Homo sapiens: one gene and its partners. The protein of the gene in region 1 interacts with the protein of each later gene in a biochemical or structural test. Each region holds a gene or a part of one and is shown in the gene's direction. Other genes may lie near its edges.

The links. Proteins that work in one complex are often made in the same cells at the same time.
Region 2: the proteins of ESR1 (region 1) and TBP form a complex in vitro, tested with the Homo sapiens proteins (2 studies listed by BioGRID).
Region 3: the proteins of ESR1 (region 1) and NCOA7 form a complex in vitro, tested with the Homo sapiens proteins (2 studies listed by BioGRID).
Region 4: the proteins of ESR1 (region 1) and GRIP1 form a complex in vitro, tested with the Homo sapiens proteins (2 studies listed by BioGRID and IntAct).

The regions. Positions count from the first base shown.
Region 1 is NC_000006.12:152,100,728-152,103,774, forward strand, and holds the end of ESR1 (estrogen receptor), read left to right. Parts: 3' UTR 1-2,547; downstream 2,548-3,047.
Region 2 is NC_000006.12:170,560,869-170,564,368, forward strand, and holds part of TBP (TATA-box-binding protein), read left to right. Parts: intron 1-922; coding exon 923-1,365; intron 1,366-3,500. UniProt on the Homo sapiens protein: The TFIID basal transcription factor complex plays a major role in the initiation of RNA polymerase II (Pol II)-dependent transcription.
Region 3 is NC_000006.12:125,929,747-125,932,534, forward strand, and holds the end of NCOA7 (nuclear receptor coactivator 7), read left to right. Parts: 3' UTR 1-2,288; downstream 2,289-2,788. UniProt on the Homo sapiens protein: Enhances the transcriptional activities of several nuclear receptors. Involved in the coactivation of different nuclear receptors, such as ESR1, THRB, PPARG and RARA.
Region 4 is NC_000012.12:66,389,077-66,392,576, reverse strand, and holds part of GRIP1 (glutamate receptor-interacting protein 1), read left to right. Parts: intron 1-74; coding exon 75-269; intron 270-3,500. UniProt on the Homo sapiens protein: May play a role as a localized scaffold for the assembly of a multiprotein signaling complex and as mediator of the trafficking of its binding partners at specific subcellular location in neurons.

The DNA.
Region 1 (3,047 bases):
TTGTCCAGTTAAGTGATCACCAAAGGACTGAGAATCTGGGAGGGCAAAAAAAAAAAAAAAGTTTTTATGTGCACTTAAATTTGGGGACAATTTTATGTATCTGTGTTAAGGATATGTTTAAGAACATAATTCTTTTGTTGCTGTTTGTTTAAGAAGCACCTTAGTTTGTTTAAGAAGCACCTTATATAGTATAATATATATTTTTTTGAAATTACATTGCTTGTTTATCAGACAATTGAATGTAGTAATTCTGTTCTGGATTTAATTTGACTGGGTTAACATGCAAAAACCAAGGAAAAATATTTAGTTTTTTTTTTTTTTTTTGTATACTTTTCAAGCTACCTTGTCATGTATACAGTCATTTATGCCTAAAGCCTGGTGATTATTCATTTAAATGAAGATCACATTTCATATCAACTTTTGTATCCACAGTAGACAAAATAGCACTAATCCAGATGCCTATTGTTGGATACTGAATGACAGACAATCTTATGTAGCAAAGATTATGCCTGAAAAGGAAAATTATTCAGGGCAGCTAATTTTGCTTTTACCAAAATATCAGTAGTAATATTTTTGGACAGTAGCTAATGGGTCAGTGGGTTCTTTTTAATGTTTATACTTAGATTTTCTTTTAAAAAAATTAAAATAAAACAAAAAAAAATTTCTAGGACTAGACGATGTAATACCAGCTAAAGCCAAACAATTATACAGTGGAAGGTTTTACATTATTCATCCAATGTGTTTCTATTCATGTTAAGATACTACTACATTTGAAGTGGGCAGAGAACATCAGATGATTGAAATGTTCGCCCAGGGGTCTCCAGCAACTTTGGAAATCTCTTTGTATTTTTACTTGAAGTGCCACTAATGGACAGCAGATATTTTCTGGCTGATGTTGGTATTGGGTGTAGGAACATGATTTAAAAAAAAACTCTTGCCTCTGCTTTCCCCCACTCTGAGGCAAGTTAAAATGTAAAAGATGTGATTTATCTGGGGGGCTCAGGTATGGTGGGGAAGTGGATTCAGGAATCTGGGGAATGGCAAATATATTAAGAAGAGTATTGAAAGTATTTGGAGGAAAATGGTTAATTCTGGGTGTGCACCAGGGTTCAGTAGAGTCCACTTCTGCCCTGGAGACCACAAATCAACTAGCTCCATTTACAGCCATTTCTAAAATGGCAGCTTCAGTTCTAGAGAAGAAAGAACAACATCAGCAGTAAAGTCCATGGAATAGCTAGTGGTCTGTGTTTCTTTTCGCCATTGCCTAGCTTGCCGTAATGATTCTATAATGCCATCATGCAGCAATTATGAGAGGCTAGGTCATCCAAAGAGAAGACCCTATCAATGTAGGTTGCAAAATCTAACCCCTAAGGAAGTGCAGTCTTTGATTTGATTTCCCTAGTAACCTTGCAGATATGTTTAACCAAGCCATAGCCCATGCCTTTTGAGGGCTGAACAAATAAGGGACTTACTGATAATTTACTTTTGATCACATTAAGGTGTTCTCACCTTGAAATCTTATACACTGAAATGGCCATTGATTTAGGCCACTGGCTTAGAGTACTCCTTCCCCTGCATGACACTGATTACAAATACTTTCCTATTCATACTTTCCAATTATGAGATGGACTGTGGGTACTGGGAGTGATCACTAACACCATAGTAATGTCTAATATTCACAGGCAGATCTGCTTGGGGAAGCTAGTTATGTGAAAGGCAAATAGAGTCATACAGTAGCTCAAAAGGCAACCATAATTCTCTTTGGTGCAGGTCTTGGGAGCGTGATCTAGATTACACTGCACCATTCCCAAGTTAATCCCCTGAAAACTTACTCTCAACTGGAGCAAATGAACTTTGGTCCCAAATATCCATCTTTTCAGTAGCGTTAATTATGCTCTGTTTCCAACTGCATTTCCTTTCCAATTGAATTAAAGTGTGGCCTCGTTTTTAGTCATTTAAAATTGTTTTCTAAGTAATTGCTGCCTCTATTATGGCACTTCAATTTTGCACTGTCTTTTGAGATTCAAGAAAAATTTCTATTCTTTTTTTTGCATCCAATTGTGCCTGAACTTTTAAAATATGTAAATGCTGCCATGTTCCAAACCCATCGTCAGTGTGTGTGTTTAGAGCTGTGCACCCTAGAAACAACATATTGTCCCATGAGCAGGTGCCTGAGACACAGACCCCTTTGCATTCACAGAGAGGTCATTGGTTATAGAGACTTGAATTAATAAGTGACATTATGCCAGTTTCTGTTCTCTCACAGGTGATAAACAATGCTTTTTGTGCACTACATACTCTTCAGTGTAGAGCTCTTGTTTTATGGGAAAAGGCTCAAATGCCAAATTGTGTTTGATGGATTAATATGCCCTTTTGCCGATGCATACTATTACTGATGTGACTCGGTTTTGTCGCAGCTTTGCTTTGTTTAATGAAACACACTTGTAAACCTCTTTTGCACTTTGAAAAAGAATCCAGCGGGATGCTCGAGCACCTGTAAACAATTTTCTCAACCTATTTGATGTTCAAATAAAGAATTAAACTAAAGACAACGAGTTTGTTTTTTGTAAGCTCCACTTCTTGCTAGCAGTTCACCACTGATCCTCTAAAATCAAAGTGGTTAAACGATCTGTCACACACAGTGAGTCTGAATGCTAAAGCCTCTCCTCACCTCACTCCCTCTGCCCAACACCCCCAGGTGTATCAGGAAGTGTGTGGACACTGTGGTCAGGCAGAACTGGCCTCAATTCTTGGCTTCACCACTTACAAATTTTATGATCATTGGCAGTTGATTTTTCAGAGTTTCGGCTTCCTTATCAACAATATGATGATAAGTAATAACACCTAATTCACACGATGGTGGTGAGGACTAACTGAGGTGCTCATTAAACATAGTTGCTGTTTTTTAATGCCTGGCCCAAATCCTTCCCTGTGAGGGAGAAGAAGGATGCTTGAGAGTGGTTATTTATGAATGAATGAGTGAATGGAAGAATGAGTGATCTGAAATGATATAATTAGCTTAAAAACCTCTCCCTCATTCTGAAGGT
Region 2 (3,500 bases), about 18 Mb from region 1:
ACTGATGACTTTAGAATATTACATAAACTTAGTTGATAAAGCAGCAGCAGGGTTTGAGAGGATTGACTCCAATTTTGAAATAAGTTCTAGTGTGGGTAAAATGCTGTCAAATAGTATCATATGCTACAGAGACATCTTCAGTGAAAGGAAGAGTCAGTCAGTGTGGCAAACTTCGTCAGTCTTATTTTAAGAAATTGCCACAGCTACCACCCTGATCAGTCAGCAGCCATCAACATCGAGGCAAGATCCTCTGTCAGCAAAAAGATTATGATTTGCTGCAGGCTCACATGATTGTTAGCATTTTTAGCAATAAAGCATTTTTAAATTAAGTTATATACATATTATTAGACATAATGCTATTGCACACTTAATAGACTTTAGTGCTAACATAACTTTTGTAGGCACTGGGAAACCAAAAAATTGATGCCGCTTGCTTTATTGAGATGGTCTGGAACCTAACCTGTAGTATCTCCGAGGTATGCCTGTATCTTCATTTGTAATATGTCCTTCACATCTTTTGCCCTTTTTTATTATTTTATTTGTTGATCTTCTTTTATGGAGTTGTCAGAGCTCTTTATTATTCTGTTTACCAGTCCTTTCTCAGATGTATGTATTATAGTTATTTTTTTCCCAGTCTGGCCTGCCTTTTAATTTTCTCAATGGTGTCTTTCAAAGAACAGAAGTTTTTAATTTTTCCGAAGTTCAGTTTATCCATTTTTCTTCATGTTTATCCACTGTGTGGTATTAAAGAAGAAAGCAATGTGTATAAGAATAGCTGGTTCTTCCGTAATTAATGTTTAATAACCCCATTATTCTCCGAAGGCATCTGTCTTTGCACACCTGACCTGCTGTTCCACCAAGAAAGTTCCACAAACACTTAGCAGCAGCCAGCCTAACCTGTTTTTCTCCTTGCTTTCCACAGGGTGCCATGACTCCCGGAATCCCTATCTTTAGTCCAATGATGCCTTATGGCACTGGACTGACCCCACAGCCTATTCAGAACACCAATAGTCTGTCTATTTTGGAAGAGCAACAAAGGCAGCAGCAGCAACAACAACAGCAGCAGCAGCAGCAGCAGCAGCAACAGCAACAGCAGCAGCAGCAGCAGCAGCAGCAGCAGCAGCAGCAGCAGCAGCAGCAGCAGCAGCAACAGGCAGTGGCAGCTGCAGCCGTTCAGCAGTCAACGTCCCAGCAGGCAACACAGGGAACCTCAGGCCAGGCACCACAGCTCTTCCACTCACAGACTCTCACAACTGCACCCTTGCCGGGCACCACTCCACTGTATCCCTCCCCCATGACTCCCATGACCCCCATCACTCCTGCCACGCCAGCTTCGGAGAGTTCTGGGATTGTACCGCAGCTGCAGTGAGTACTTCGTGTTTTATGTTTCCTCCCACTTAGGAGTCCCTTTGAGTTATGTTCCTGCTCTGTTTTCAGATGGATCCTTTTATTAAGGGAGGGAGTGGCACTAACGGTAATTGTGTATCAAAATTTGCTTTATCTCACATTTGGGAAAGGGAAGCAAAGCTATCTTAGTCAGTGTCCTCAGTAAAAGGCTCTTAACAGGTTTAGAAATGTGGTCATTTGTGTTTACATACCTGAGCCAATAAAATTTAATCTGACTTTCACTGTCGTTATTATTATATTATAGACATTTCCCTGTATCTGATATCGCTAAATCACAATGTTAGGTAGTCTCTTTCCCTTATGCTATTTTAGGTCTTTAGTCACAATATCAGTATAATTTCTGGTAGTTCTTGTTTTTTGTTTTTACTATGGGTGCTGCATATAAATCTTTGAAGGTCTGTGTCCTTCCCACAAAATGAAGACGACTGTTTTTGTCATAAATGGATTTTTCTACCTAAATGAAGTGGGTTCTATATGTAACAGTGTAGTAGGGGTAGGAAATAATTTCATCTTCCTGAAAAACCAGCAAATATTTCCAAATAATTCCAGTCAATAAGAAGTGTATAGCTTTTCATTTTAGAAAGCTTATGACCAAATTAAAAGGTTACTTGCAGTCTCTGCATCTCCTCAGTTTTCTTGTACAGATACCTTCCTCCTTCATACTCCCTTTAGATCTAGTATTTCCTATTTGCATTTATTCACCTTGTTACATATATGGTTGTTGTTTATAAGCTATCTCTCATCATTTTTGGAACTAAGTGGTGTGTAATCGTGGATGCTGACTTTCACCCAAAGACCTAAATCTTGCCTCCACAATTTTGTTTGACCCCACACACAATTTTAAAAACAAAGTAATTTTAGTGATTTTAGAGAGAGCCCTTTTTAGCTCACCCTTGTCTATACCACTCCCATGTGTCCAGCATGCTTGTCTGACTCCCAGGAATATTTAAGTTTGCATTTCTGATTTAAATAATAAATTATAAACAGTACAGTCAGGTGTTTGTTTCTTGCGAGTGCCTTTGCTGTTCTGATACTCCCCAGAGCATCCAGTCATCCACATTCCTGAATTTCCACTATCTACTAAGAACCCTCCCGGGTGGTAGTTCAGTGCCCTCTCCATCTTGTAGGCTTAAGAGGGATTAAGGTAAATATTTAATTAATGAAAATATATAAGAATACATTTAACAATTATGTGACTAAAGTTGTGATAGATATACTAAAATCTACTTGGTATAGTTCATAAGTGGACAAATGCTAAAGGCAGGTGTGTATACAAGGGTGATTGGAAGGAAATAGATGATATGGAAATGAAAACATTCATTGTGTGGATCAACCTAATTGGCTTTACAGTTGTGTATCATAGACTGTACAAGAAAAAGAACCAGAAGCAACAATGAGCTGAAACCTATTGTATTTGAACCTATGTATTTGAAATCTGGACTCGATATTCTTGGGATGGTGATTTCCAGGTCCATGCGAGACAGTTGTTGAGCAGTTAATTGCATTCAAAGGGCATTGCCCATTTCAACTATATATACTTTCATAAGCAGAAAAATGTATAATGAAAATGTGGGTTTGTTGTTTAAATTTTTATTAAAATTTCTAATAGAGTTGCTTTTTAGTATATCTTTATCCTTGTATAAGTTATTCGTTAAGTGATTTAAGAACACTGAGAAATGAAAAGGGTCAGTGGACCCAGATGGCTCCATTTATCCTTATTTACTGAGAGTTAATTAGAAGAGAAAGCAGGGTTTTGCCTTTTTTTTTTGCTAAAGACACTTAGCTCTTGTTTTTCAAAAGATACTTACTTTGAGAGAACTGGGCAGTTCATGCCTGCTTGTTTTCATTATAAATAGTTACTTAGGAATAGGGTGGTGGTGGTAGCTTTTCAGAGCTCACAGATGAGAATTGAGTTTGTCTGTGAGAAGGCTAAGGGCAGGCTCTGGAGACAGACAGACTCAAATCCTGGCTCCTCCACTTGGGAGCCATTGCGTCCTGAGCAAGTTGCACTCTACCTTTAAGCCTCAGCTTATTTATCCAAATGTGGGAATACTGGTAACTTCTACCTCAGTGCGTTATATGTATTAAATGGA
Region 3 (2,788 bases), about 26 Mb from region 1:
GAAAAAAAATGTTTTGCTTCTTACAAAATCATTTGTGTTAATAACAAAAACTTTATTTTCGGAGTGTTCTTTGTATAACTTTTCCAAGCTTTTACATTAACGAGCAGGCCTCTGTCTTAAAAGGGACTCAGTATATTAATTTCTGCATTTTTTAAATCAAATGAAAAACGTCAAATTGGACCAATTGTCTTGGTTTCTTGATTCATTTATTTGAGAAAAAAACAATACAAAGAAATGCATTCATATCAAAATTGGAATAGAAAGGAAAACCTATTTTTAAGATATCAACCTATTTTCACATCATAAAACATCTATTACATAAAATAAAGGTCCAGGCATAGTGGCTCTTGCCTGTAATCCCAGCACTTTGGGAGGCCGAGGCAGGTGGATCACTCAAGGTCACAAGTTTGAGACCAGTCTGGCCAACATGGTGAAACCCCATCTCTACTAAAAGTACAAATATTAGCCGACTATGTGGCGGGCACCTGTAATCCCACCTACTCGGGAGGCTGAGGCAGGAGAATTGCTTGAATCCGGGAAGCAGAGGTTGTAGTGAGCCAAGATCGTGCCACTGCACTCTATCCTGGGTAACAGCGAGACTCTGTCTTAAAAATAATAACAATAATAATAATAATAAAGACTTACTTAACCAATATTATTGATTACCAGACTTTTATGAAAGCCAAAGACTGCTTGCTAGTAGGAAAAAATTTCAAATAATAACCAAAGCTGAAAAATGGTCTGTCATAAATTATTTCCCCGGTAATTTTTGAAAGGAAAAATGTATAACAAGTACTATTTACATATCTGCATTTAAAAAAGCAATTCTTAGAATACTTCCTTTACATTATTCTCCTATTTTAGACATTTTGTGAAAGAGAACAAATTGTCCAGTGGCCTCCTGTCAGATCAACAATTATTATACTCCTTAATTCCATGCAAATTTAAATGAATGCTATAAAATTTTAAATCTGTAGCCTGGGTGTACGTTTCACTCAAGTTCTCCTACTGAGGACTCTTGACTAACAGCATACTGGCAGTTTCACCTTAACCTGCTCGTTAAATAATGTGTTGGTGTGAGATATCAGGAATGTCTCATGATATCACGTTTACCATTTACACCATCTGCAACCATATGCTATTAATAAAATGGAAAAAAACAAAATGGTCATTTTGCATATACTTCACTCTGACCTAGTTTAGTCCATGATACTATAATTGTGAGAGCATATCCAGATGCTGTGTTCTCTATGTAAAACAGTATTGTCCATTCAGAAATGTGTGACCCTTCATTTATGGATATTGACTATATGTAATGCAGTGCTATCCCAATATTTTCAATAAAGGACTTTATGCATTCAGTGATTTTCTTTCCCAAAGATTCATTCATCAGGTATTTACTGGGTACCAGAGTGTTTATTTTTGTGAGAGGATGGTGAAATATCCAAGACTAAACAAGGTCCAGAGCTCATGTTTTCACTGCTGCCCTGGAAACTCCCTCTTCATTCCCTGTAGCCACCCTCCTAATTGTCTCATCAGTTCACGGAAACTGCTCTCATTATGGTTACCAGAGACAACTCTTGGCTGTATCTACCAGTCTCTTCTAATCTTTCTAGCTGTGCAATGAATGACAACCTCCTCCTCTTAACATCTGTCTTAACCTACTTCATAATTTCCGTAAGGGACACTTTACTCTCTGATAAATTTTCTTTGGCATCCTGACACCTAGCCCCTAGATGTTGGGCTAGATGAAGACCCCAAGCAGTCTTCATTGCTTCATAATTCCTCAGTTCATAAGTCCATATCAAAGGACTTGGGTGGGAGGAGGCAACCAAATGTTTCTTCAGACTCTACTGAAAATGATTAGATGCATCCCCGTGCTACAAGCCACCAGAGACATCCTGCACTATTATAAGTATGTCTTCCCTTAATTTGATCTCCCTCTCCTTGATGCCTTTTAAAGTTTTAGAGACACATTGATATGGTTTGGCTGTGTGTCCCCACCAACATCTCATTGGAATTATAATCCCCACATGTTGAGGGAGGGACCTAGTGGGATGTGATTAGAACATGGGGGCGGTTTCCCCCATGCTGTTCTCATGATAGTGAGGGAGTTTTCATGAGATCTGTTTTAAAATGTTTGGCAGTTCCACCCTCACCCTCTCTTCTGCTGCCATGTAAGATGTGCCTTGCTTCCCCTTTGCCTTCTGCCATGATTGTAAATTTCCTGACGCCTACCCAGCCATGTGAAACTGTGAGTCCATTAAACCTCTTTTCTTTATAAATAACCCAGTCTCAGGTAGTTCTTTATAGTAGTGTGAAAATGGACTAATACACACATGAAACAGCATTAATGAAAGAATTACTCTCCTTTTGAGGAAGCCATTGAGAATCTCTTAAGCCAGAAAGGAGTGTTACGTTTCATGTTTTTCTTAGGATGCCTAACCTATTTTTACCAATTTAATTCGATACAGAAAGGTAAGGAGGTCAGAAACCAAGGGAAATTCCAGAAAACTCAAGGGAAGCCACACTCATTTCTTGTGCATGTATCAAAAGTGCCTTTGACCACTTCCTTCTGCCCAATGAGGTCACTTACTCTTAATCAGAGAAAGCCCTGACTTCAAAGCATCACATTCTCTGTCACCTCCTGGCCTATGACCATTATCCATAGTGAGCCCCTAACAGAAGGTGTTTTTACTGAAAAAAAAATAAGCTTCATTCTTCACACCAAACTCTTAAGATCTTATTCCCTTTCTATTTCAAATCTCTAGTGGTTCAGAATAAAAAT
Region 4 (3,500 bases), on another chromosome or scaffold:
CTAGCCACGGAGTATCTTGGTATATTTTTATTTAAATTTACTCTGATACTTAAACTCCTTTCCTGTCTATAAAGCCCAGTCAGCATCGAGCCCCAAGAAGTTCCCTATTTCTAGCCATTTGAGTGACCTGGGGGATGTGGAGGAGGACTCCTCACCAGCACAGAAGCCAGGCAAGCTCTCCGACATGTACCCCTCCACGGTGCCCAGTGTGGACAGTGCTGTGGATTCATGGGATGGGTCTGCAATAGACACCAGCTATGGAACTCAAGGTATGTCTTTACTTTGTCCCCCAGAGGACTTGTCATTGTTGAAGCCCATGCTTCTCCAAGATTCATCCTCTGCTCCATGAGGAGAATATCTTTCTTTAACTTGTGTCTGCTTTGGTGCAGCCATAATCATATTGAACACATTGAATACTTACACTCTGCTGGCCATGCATTTTCTTCTAGTGCTTATAAGGCATGAACCTTTACCAAACACTAACAGGCCTCCATTAGGTCTACTGATGGCCAAGTATCCCATCCAGGGCTTGTCCTTCAAGCTTAGATTAATGTGAGGCAAACCATACAATAAAGTGGCTCGTTCAATACAGGCCCCATTGCCTTATTTTTCAGCAAGCTTTCCACAAAGATGGATTGGGGAGTTTGGAAGAGGTGCATAAGAGATTAGCCAATGATTTGTGACTCTATTTATTCCTGCACACTCCTGACTTTTTTTTTTCTTTTAGAGACTGGGTCTCACTCTGTCACCCCAGCTAGAATACCCTGGCACCATCATAGTTCATTATAGTCTCAAACTCCTGGACTCAAGGGATCTTGCTGCCTCAGTCTCCTCAGTAGCTGAGACTATGTGCACACACCACCACACCCAGCTGATTTTTAAATTTTTGTAGATACGGGGTCTTGTCATGTTCTCCAGGCTGGTATCAAACTTCTGGCCTCCAGCAATCCTCCCATCTTGGCCTCCCAAAGTGCTAGGATAATAGGCATGAGCCACCATGCCCTTTCCCTGAATGTTTATAATTAGAGCACTATAATCACAATATAGGAAAGTATAGAGTAGATTTTTCTTCATAGGTGTCATCGTCATGTGAAGAAATACTATCTACATTAAAAAGCCTCACTCATGGAATATAAACACATAAAAGGTGTCAGACTGAATACAGAGCATAAACTAATAGCTTCTTTTAAAAAATATTTTCTTCCCAGTGATCCGTAGCATCAACAAGAGAAGTATGTCAAAACTTCTTGGTATTTCTCCTCATCTGAGCCTTACCTTCTCTCATGTTCTATGTAAATTCCAGCCTCTGAATCCCTTGTTTGCTCTGGGTTTCAGTCAGTCAAATAATAAAACACATAAACAGTTTAGAGAACACATTGGTGTGAGGGCTGCTTTGTCACTGAGTTAACTGTACTTTTTAGGAGTGTCTGTATCCAGTTTGCTCTCTCCTGGTTTTCCTAGTTTCCTTCTCTCAGCCTGCCTATGTTGTGTCACTCTCTGTTAAGTCCTCTGGTGAACAAAAAACAAAAATGGAAGGGAGAAAAAACTGGAAAAAAAAATGAAAGGAGATGATATTTCAAAGTTGTCAAGTTGTTACTTTCATTAGAGATGATACTGGAGTTAGGTGGGGAAAATACTTTGAACACCTAAGTAGAATTGGGGCTTTATCTGGCAATTAATTTTTCCAAGTCATAATACCTTGTGACAAGTTCACCTATGCCACCAAATAACAGACCTTCTGATTGCCTGAGAATTGATGGGCCACCAGAAGACACTGAGTAAAGGACAGAAGTCACATTCTATCAGAGTAGACTCAGGTTTATTTATCAATTTATTGTGTATTGGTTATTTATTTGTGTATTTTTTGTGTATTGCTTATTAATGTAGAGATATTTTTGTTACCAGAGATTTTTGTGAGGGTGCTATTGATATTAATTAGTTCTTCCCTGTAAGGTGATCTGTAAGACCTTAGCTACTCCATCCCTTGAAACCACAGACACAGGACCATGAGAAGCAAACTGAATATAGGACCTGCCCCTCACTAGTAAAAGATGAAAAACCATTTACTATTTGTGAAGCATTTTGAAATTTTGAATCATAGTCATAATATTACATTTTGCATTTATAATTTAGACATTTTTATGAGGTTGAAGGGAACTGAGGGATAAGTAGAGACAATGGCAATCAGGATAGAATCGAAGTACTCCAAGGTAATGAAAAAATAGTAATAACCCTTTATATATATAGAACACTCTAGAGTTTACAAAGCACTTTCACATAACTAATCCCCATTAATTCTTGTGACGAACATGGGAGCTGAAGGCAGGATTTCAGGTTTGGAAAGGGTTTAGGAGTCAGCTAGTCTGATGTCCAGTGCAGCCCTTGGTGCCAGGTCCTGCCTCACTGCACGCCAAGACACGCTGCATGGACTTGAATGCCCAAGGTGACAGGTTGTTCCTTGTGCTGAGGCAGCCCCCCATCTCCACGTAGCTCTGATGACTCTAAAGCTCTCACTTGTATTGAGCTGCAGTATGCCTAATAGTCCCGGCTATACCCTCAAGGTCATTCTGCACTAGACTAAAGCCTCTTCTCCTGACAGCCCCTTAGATACTCGAAGACAGCTATTGGGTCTCTGTTGAGGCTTTCCTTCTCCAAGCAAAATAGCCCCAGTTCCTTTAACTGTGTCTTCTATAATTTACTGACGAGTATCTGTATCGTCCTGTGGACCTCCCTTACGAATGTGCTTCAGTTTACCTGTGTACCCGTTAAAGTGTAACATTCAGAAAGGAAAATCACACAACAGCCCGACAGCCCGGAGCAAAGCAAGCTGGTCACTGGCATCATTGAAGACAGGAGAACTGATCAATGACACCTACCTCAACATAAGAATTTTAGTGGTCATGGCACATCTGTCACTCATTTTGCGCTTACAGTTTACCGAGATCTCAAAGTCTTGTGAATGTGTTTTTTTTTCTTTACCCGTGATATTCAGTTAAACTGCATCTCTCCAGATTGTGCTTGTGAGGTTGACTTTTTAAAAGCAAGGCACAGCTGGGTGCAGTGGCTCAGGCCTATATTCCCAGCACTTTGGGAGGCTGAGGTGGGCAAATCACCTGAGGTCAGGAGTTCAAGACCAGCCTGAGCAACGTGGCGAAACCCCATCTCTACTAAAAATACAAAAACTAGCCAGGCGTGGTGGCACACACCTGTAATCCCAGCTACTCGGGAGGCTGAGGCAGGAGAATCGCTTGAACCAGGAGGCGGAGATTGCAGTGAGCCAAGATCATGCCACTGCACTCCAGCCTGGGCAATAGAACAAGACTACGTCTCAAAAAAAATTAAAACAAAAATAAAAGCAAGGCATAGAACCACACTTTTATTTTTCCTATTCAATATTATGTTGTGAGATACAGCTTATCTCTCCAACCTGTCCCTCCAGCCTCTCAGCAGGCTCTCTGCCTTGTTCCAGGAAGCCCCTGCACATTCTCTCTGTTCCCTTT